Linked DNA regions of Homo sapiens. The protein of the gene in region 1 interacts with the protein of each later gene in a pairwise test. Each region holds a gene or a part of one and is shown in the gene's direction. Other genes may lie near its edges.

Evidence for each region. Proteins that work in one complex are often made in the same cells at the same time.
Region 2: the proteins of KCTD6 (region 1) and TBC1D2 interact in binary tests that used the Homo sapiens proteins (3 or more experiments, as listed by UniProt).

The regions. Positions count from the first base shown.
Region 1 is NC_000003.12:58,498,596-58,502,095, forward strand, and holds part of KCTD6 (BTB/POZ domain-containing protein KCTD6), read left to right. Parts: exon of another isoform or gene 1-117; 5' UTR 118-160; coding exon 161-187; intron 188-2,350; coding exon 2,351-3,037; 3' UTR 3,038-3,500. UniProt on the Homo sapiens protein: Probable substrate-specific adapter of a BCR (BTB-CUL3-RBX1) E3 ubiquitin-protein ligase complex mediating the ubiquitination and subsequent proteasomal degradation of target proteins.
Region 2 is NC_000009.12:98,249,150-98,252,649, reverse strand, and holds part of TBC1D2 (TBC1 domain family member 2A), read left to right. Parts: intron 1-723; coding exon 724-865; intron 866-3,500. UniProt on the Homo sapiens protein: Acts as a GTPase-activating protein for RAB7A. Signal effector acting as a linker between RAC1 and RAB7A, leading to RAB7A inactivation and subsequent inhibition of cadherin degradation and reduced cell-cell adhesion.

The DNA.
Region 1 (3,500 bases):
GAGCAAGGACGAGTAGTTTTTCTGGTGTTTGGCCTCCTCTGTTGGGTGGAAAAAGACTTTCTTCTCTATTTTCCTAGTTATATATGCTATCATATGTCTGTTTTTCTCCTCTTGAAGTTTCCCTGAAACCTGGGCTCTTGAAGACGCATCACTGGAGCAGATGGATAATGGAGACTGGGGCTATATGGTGAGTGCTTCTTGGAGATGCATTTTGAAGGCTGGGGAATTATTTTTGTGTGTCTTTTTATCCTTATGTATTTTTAGGTATATCTTATAAGAAAAGAAAATTGTGAATTTGTGTAACCTCTCTTCCCCCTTTTACTTAGTTTAGATGTATTTTGGAGGCGTTTTTGTCTTGTGTGGTGTTTTTTAAATTTTTATTTAATTTTTTTTATGTGGAGTCTCGCCTTCTTGCCCAGGCTGGAGTGCAGTGGCGCGATCTTGGCTCACTGCAACCTCCACCTCCTAGGTTCAAGAGATTCTCCTGCCTCAGCCTCCTGAGTAGCTGGGATTATCAGCGTGCACCACCACATCTGGCTAATTTTTGTATTTTTAGTAGACACGGGGTTTCACCATGTTGGCCAGGCTGATCTCGAACTCCTGACCTCAAACGATCCTCTGCCTTTGTTTGGTGTTTTAATGGAATCAAACTCAAAATGGATTTTCCAAATACTTTTTATAATCACTGGAGAGGTAACGTGATTTTTTATTTTTTCAAGTGTGTTGCTCTGAAGACTCTTTCTTCATGAATAGTGACTACAAAGGGATCTAGTGAGTTTGGAGGATATTTTGTTGTGGTTTGGGAGATTAATGGTTGAGAAAGTGCCTCTTCTCCCCACTTGCATTTTTTGTGTGTGCATATGTCTCCCTATTTTTCTATTCCTTTGGTGTAAGGTATATTTTACTTGCCTATACCTGAAGTCTCTGTCTGCCTTTCTTTTTTCTTTCTTCCTTTTTTTTTTTTTTTTTCGAGACAGGGTCTTGCTCTTTTCCCTAGGCTGGAGTGCAATGGCGTGATCTCGGCTCATGACTTTCCAAGCTCAGGTGATTGTCCCACCTCAGCCTCCTGAGTAGCTGAGACGATAGGTGGGCACCAACATGTGTGGCTAATATTTTGTATTTTTTGTAGAGATGGAGTTTTGTCATGTTGCCCAGGCTGGTCAGCAACTCCTGGGCTCAAGTGATCCACCCTCCTTGGCCTCCCAAAGTGCTGGGATTACAGGTGTGAGCCACCACACCTGGCCTATTTTTTTCGTAAATAGTATTTCTAAAACTGAAGGTATGTTTTTTAAGAGAAGCTTGCTTCTCAGAATTAAAGGCCAGATTGCAGCATTAATGTTACAAAAGTGAATACACTATCAGATTATGAAATTTTATGGCTGCTGTAAGCTTTTGGGTATGTGATGCTTTTCTGGCTTGGTTGTATTGACTAAACTGTATATTTTAACTTAGTATTTGAAAGTATCACTTCCATGAAAAAGTTACCAAGATTAGGTCTGCACAGTTTTTAATTTAATTTAAATAATTTTTTTTTTTTGGAGACAAAATCTCTCTGTGTCGCCCAGGCTGAAGTGAAGTGGCATGATCTTGGCTCACTGCAGCCTGTGCCTCCTGGGTTCAAGTGATTCTCATACCTCAGCCTCCCAAGTAGCTAGGACTACTCAGGCCACCACACCCAGTGAATTTTTTTTTTTTTTTTTTTGTATTTTTAATAGAGATGGGGTCTTGCCATGTTGCCCAGGCTGGTCTTGAACTCCTGAGCTCAGGCAATCTGCCTGCCCCGGCCTCCCAAAGTGCTAGGATTACAGGTATGAGCCACTGTACCTGGCCCAAATTTTTATTTTAAAAACAAATTTCATAGTTTGTTCCTTTTGTTTGAGGGGGAGAAACCAAAGAAATATTGAAAGTAAATGTCTATATTATCAGATCATTTTAATTCTATCTAATGTTAAATTAAATTCAGAAAAATGCAAGCCTTAAAAAAAAATCAGAAAAAAATAAGTGTATTTTAGCGTGGCTTTTCCCTTCCCACATATATTCTGGCCTGAAAACTCTATAGATAATGGGCCTGAAATGATTTGGCTCTGGAAGTCAATGCCCTGTATTCTTAGCATAAGTCTTTAAAGAGAAATTGGATTTCTCCTTTTTTTTTCTATTGAAAGCAAATGTTAGATCACTTCATCTGGGTGGGTTTATTGCTGGTAGTAAAGTCATTTTGCATTAGAGGATTACTAAATACATTATAGCCTGAAAGAATCTTGGGCTTTGCTCAGTATCACTTACTTTCTTAATTTGTCAAAGTTAGTATTTAAAAATTTCAGATGACTGATCATTTCTTTACAAATTTCAGATGACTGACCCAGTCACATTAAATGTAGGTGGACACTTGTATACAACGTCTCTCACCACATTGACGCGTTACCCGGATTCCATGCTTGGAGCTATGTTTGGGGGGGACTTCCCCACAGCTCGAGACCCTCAAGGCAATTACTTTATTGATCGAGATGGACCTCTTTTCCGATATGTCCTCAACTTCTTAAGAACTTCAGAATTGACCTTACCGTTGGATTTTAAGGAATTTGATCTGCTTCGGAAAGAAGCAGATTTTTACCAGATTGAGCCCTTGATTCAGTGTCTCAATGATCCTAAGCCTTTGTATCCCATGGATACTTTTGAAGAAGTTGTGGAGCTGTCTAGTACTCGGAAGCTTTCTAAGTACTCCAACCCAGTGGCTGTCATCATAACGCAACTAACCATCACCACTAAGGTCCATTCCTTACTAGAAGGCATCTCAAATTATTTTACCAAGTGGAATAAGCACATGATGGACACCAGAGACTGCCAGGTTTCCTTTACTTTTGGACCCTGTGATTATCACCAGGAAGTTTCTCTTAGGGTCCACCTGATGGAATACATTACAAAACAAGGTTTCACGATCCGCAACACCCGGGTGCATCACATGAGTGAGCGGGCCAATGAAAACACAGTGGAGCACAACTGGACTTTCTGTAGGCTAGCCCGGAAGACAGACGACTGATCTCCGACCCTGCCACAGGTTCCTGGAAAGACTCTCCAGGAAATGGAAGATACTGATTTTTTTTTTTAAATCACAGTGTGAGATATTTTTTTTCTTTTAAATAGTTGTATTTATTTGAAGGCAGTGAGGACCAGAAGGAAGTTTTGTGCTTTGGCAGACTCCTCCATGTTTTGTTCCCTTCCCCCTGAGTATGCATGTGCCTGTTCAGAGTCTCCAGATACCTTTTTTATAAAAAGAAGTCTGAAAATCATTATGGTATATAATCTACCCTTAACAGAGCTTTTCTTATTACAGTGCTAAAATGATTTCTGATAAAATGGTCCCTAACTCAACTAGAAGGCTAAAAATACAAGAATGAAAGAATAAGCAGAGTACTCATGATGCCTTTGAGAAAAATCAAAACATCATGTAGGGTGACCTAGTTTCCAAACCAATAAATAAGTAGTATTGTAATATTAAAGGA
Region 2 (3,500 bases), on another chromosome or scaffold:
AGAGGTTTAGTTTCTCCATCTGTAGAAAGGGGTGCTCACTCCTGCCTTGCCTCCCTCCTGAAGAATCCAGGAGTTATTGGATGTGAAAGTGGATGTTTGGACCAACCGCCAGCCAGTGCTGGGAGACTAATGACCAGCATTTACCATGAACTTGTTTGGAGGGCCAGAGCACCTGGAAGGTGCCACCATGTTGTCACATGTGCATGTGGCTTTCCAGTCTCCATTCATATCCATGATTCCAGTGCATCCCCAAGGCAAGGATTACTCCTATTCCACAAAAGGCAGCAAAGACTTGGAGATGTCACACAGAGATAGTGATGGTACCAGGACCCCACGCATATCAGAATTCAGTGCACCTCCCCCTCTCACAGCGCCTCCAAATTCCTCTATCCAGTGAGCACATTTTGAGCACCTACTGTGTGTCAGATACTGTGTGATACCCTTGTCTCATTTCATCCTCATCATTGTCCTATGCAATGAGACTTATTGTCACCAGAGTACAGATGAGGAAACTGAGGCCCAGAGCAGCTAAGGAACCGCTGAGTGGGAGACCAGAGCCTGATGATCTTCTGTGGCCAGGAAGCATACATACCTACAGTGACCCCCTTTTTTTTTTCCTGGGAAAGAAAGCATTCCTAAGCCTCCCACAACCTTCCCCTCTTCCTGCACCCAGTGCCACCCTTCAGGCACAGGGCCTTGCCAACTAATCCTTGTGCTTCTCAGGCCGCCACCAAGCAAGCGATGCTGTACTGGCTGCAGCAGCTGCAGATGAAGCGCTGGGAATTCCACAACAGCCCGCCGGCACCTCCTGCCACCCCTGATGCCGCCCTGGCTGGGAATGGGCCCGTCCTGCACCTCGAGCTAGGTACCCAATGGGCTACCCTCCTGCCTGCACACCCAGGGCTCTGGTGATTAAGCCTTTACCCTCCTGCTGGGAATGAGCGGGAGGAGCCCTCTGCTAAGGAAGCAGAGAGCCAGGGATATGACTCAGGATTAGTTAGGGCAAGAATTTGGGCTGAGGCCAGGCTGCCTGGGTTCAAATCCTAGTCCTATATAACTTTAGGCAAGTTGTTTAACCTTTCTGAGCTTGTTTCCTTCCCCATAAGATGAGGTTTATAAATTATCCCTACTTCTTAGGGATGTTTTGAGGATTAAATGAATTCATATACCTAAAATGGTTAGAACAATGCCTGCACATGGTCAGAACCCAATACTTGTGAGCTACTATTGTGATGACTATTATGGAAGGCCTCAAGAAATCAAACTTTCACAGAATTGCTGTGAGGAGGGTTAATAAGAAAATGCAGTGTTGTAGATTTGTGTCGTGAGTTGGGTAGATCAGTGACTTTTTTTTTTTTTGAGATGGAGTCTCACTCTGTTGCCCAGGCTGGAGTGCAATGGTGCAATCTCGGCTCACTGCAACTTCCGCCTCCCGGGTTTAAGCAATTCTCTGCCTCAGCCTCCCGAGGCAGCCTCAGCTGGGATTACAGGCACGTGCCACCACGCCCGGCTAATTTTTGTATTTTTAGTAGAGATGGGGTTTCACCATCTTGGCCAGGCTGATCTTGAACTCCTGACCTCGTGATCTACCCGCCTCAGCCTCCCAAAGTGCTGGGATTACAGGCATGAGCCACCATGCCTGGCCAGATCAATTATTTTTATCGCTGGTGTTCCCATAAGATAGGATCCTTTTCCCCCAGATGACTCACAAATGAAGTTTCTTGATCCCAAATCCTGGATCATCCCAACGTGGAAGAGTCCAGGAGACCACACCCTCCCACCCCCATGCTGCAGCCAGGAACATGATTGGCAGGTTTTAGGATCGGTATGGACCACCTCACAGCTGCCCCTGCAAGAATGTGGAAAATCAGGTCCCAGTACAAAGCCACACTGTGTCTAAAGTGCTTCATGTTCAGTTGACAGGGAGGCCAAATAGGCAAGGGCAGGACTTGTTACCAAGTACCCCCTGGACCTCTGTACCTGGGTGCTTTGCATGTCCAAAGCTGAGTACATCTGCCCCAACCCTTCTCCCCATTTCCCTTCCCTCCTCTCAGTAGATTTCCCCTCTTGTACCCACTAGTAGTTGCCCTCCACCCTTCCTCAATTCCAGCCAGTGAGTCCAGTCAATCACTGTGCTGGCCATTTTTGCCCTCTGACCCATACATCAGACCCAGGCCTTTCTCGCTGCCACTGCCCAGGTCACACCTCATCTCTCAAAGTCACAGTGGCCTCCTCTCCAGTATCCCCATGTGGAGGCCATGCCAGAACCCATCCCCTTCTCTGCAGCCTGAGTGAGCTTTCTTAAACCTGACCCTGAACCCGGTCACTGCCATCCAATGCCACCCACCACCTCACTCCTGCACTCAGGGCTCATCCCTCCTGATCTCACCTCTGCCTGCTCCCCCAGTCCCCACCTTGGGCTTGATGCTTCGGCAGAGTCTCTGCTCTCTCTCCTTTGCCTGGCAAATTCTTGCTTATTCTCTATGGCCAAGCTCCAGCATTGCCTTCTCTTCTTGCCAGCCTCCTCCTGGAAGCCTTCTCAGACTTTGTCAGCTGGATTCTCTCTGGGCCCTCAACACTTTTTTCAAACACTTCAAGGGAGACCTGTTCCATTGTGTTCTATTAATAATTACCCCCGTCCTTGTCCATCTCCACCCGCTAGCCCTTAAGGGTGGGGACTTTTTTTTGGTTGCCTGTGTCACCTCCCTGGTGTCCTGCCTGGCACATTGGATATTTGTGGAATGAATGTGTAAGTCAATACACTAAACTTTATAATTAAATGAGGAAAGGAATGTAAACCCCTTAGCATAACCTCAGGCACATAGTAAGTGCTCAATACATGGGAGTTGTCCTAATAATATTGTTATTCTATGTCTATATGTCTGTGCATAGAACACACCCATGCTATTACTATCATAATAGTATATACACAAACATATATAGGTGCTGTTACTAGTATAATAACTGTTCCTTTTATTCTTAATAATCATTAGTAATTTCTTTGGAGTTTCTTTTGAAGGGTTTCTTTGCTTCTGCTCCAGCCCCCACTCCCCATCTGCCAGGGAGCCAGACAACCCTGGTTTTGCAGAAAACTGCAGCCTGGGTTGATGCTGCTGCAAAGATCAGCATCAGACTAGAGGCCAGCAGAAACCTCTGCAATAATAGAATTCCTGTGTCTTAACTGAAATTTGAAGAAGCAGATTGTGGAAGAACGGCTCTGGGATCCTCAGACCTCTTCTGCTGTGGGGAACCTGTTGCAGGTTCTTTAATTGTGCGGCTTTGCTTCAGCACACACGGCGGGCCTCTTCCAGGCCAGCCCCTGCTGTGGGCATTGGAGAAAGGGGTGGAGTTGCTGTGATGACCTGGGTTCTAGTCTCCTGAGGAGGATGCTGCCTGAGACTCAGGAAGCAGGGACGTGAGCTTCTCCTCTTGAAACCTTTCCTCGCCTTGCAGCAAGCCTGCACTCTCCTCCCAGACCCAGGGCCTGGCAAAACCTTCCC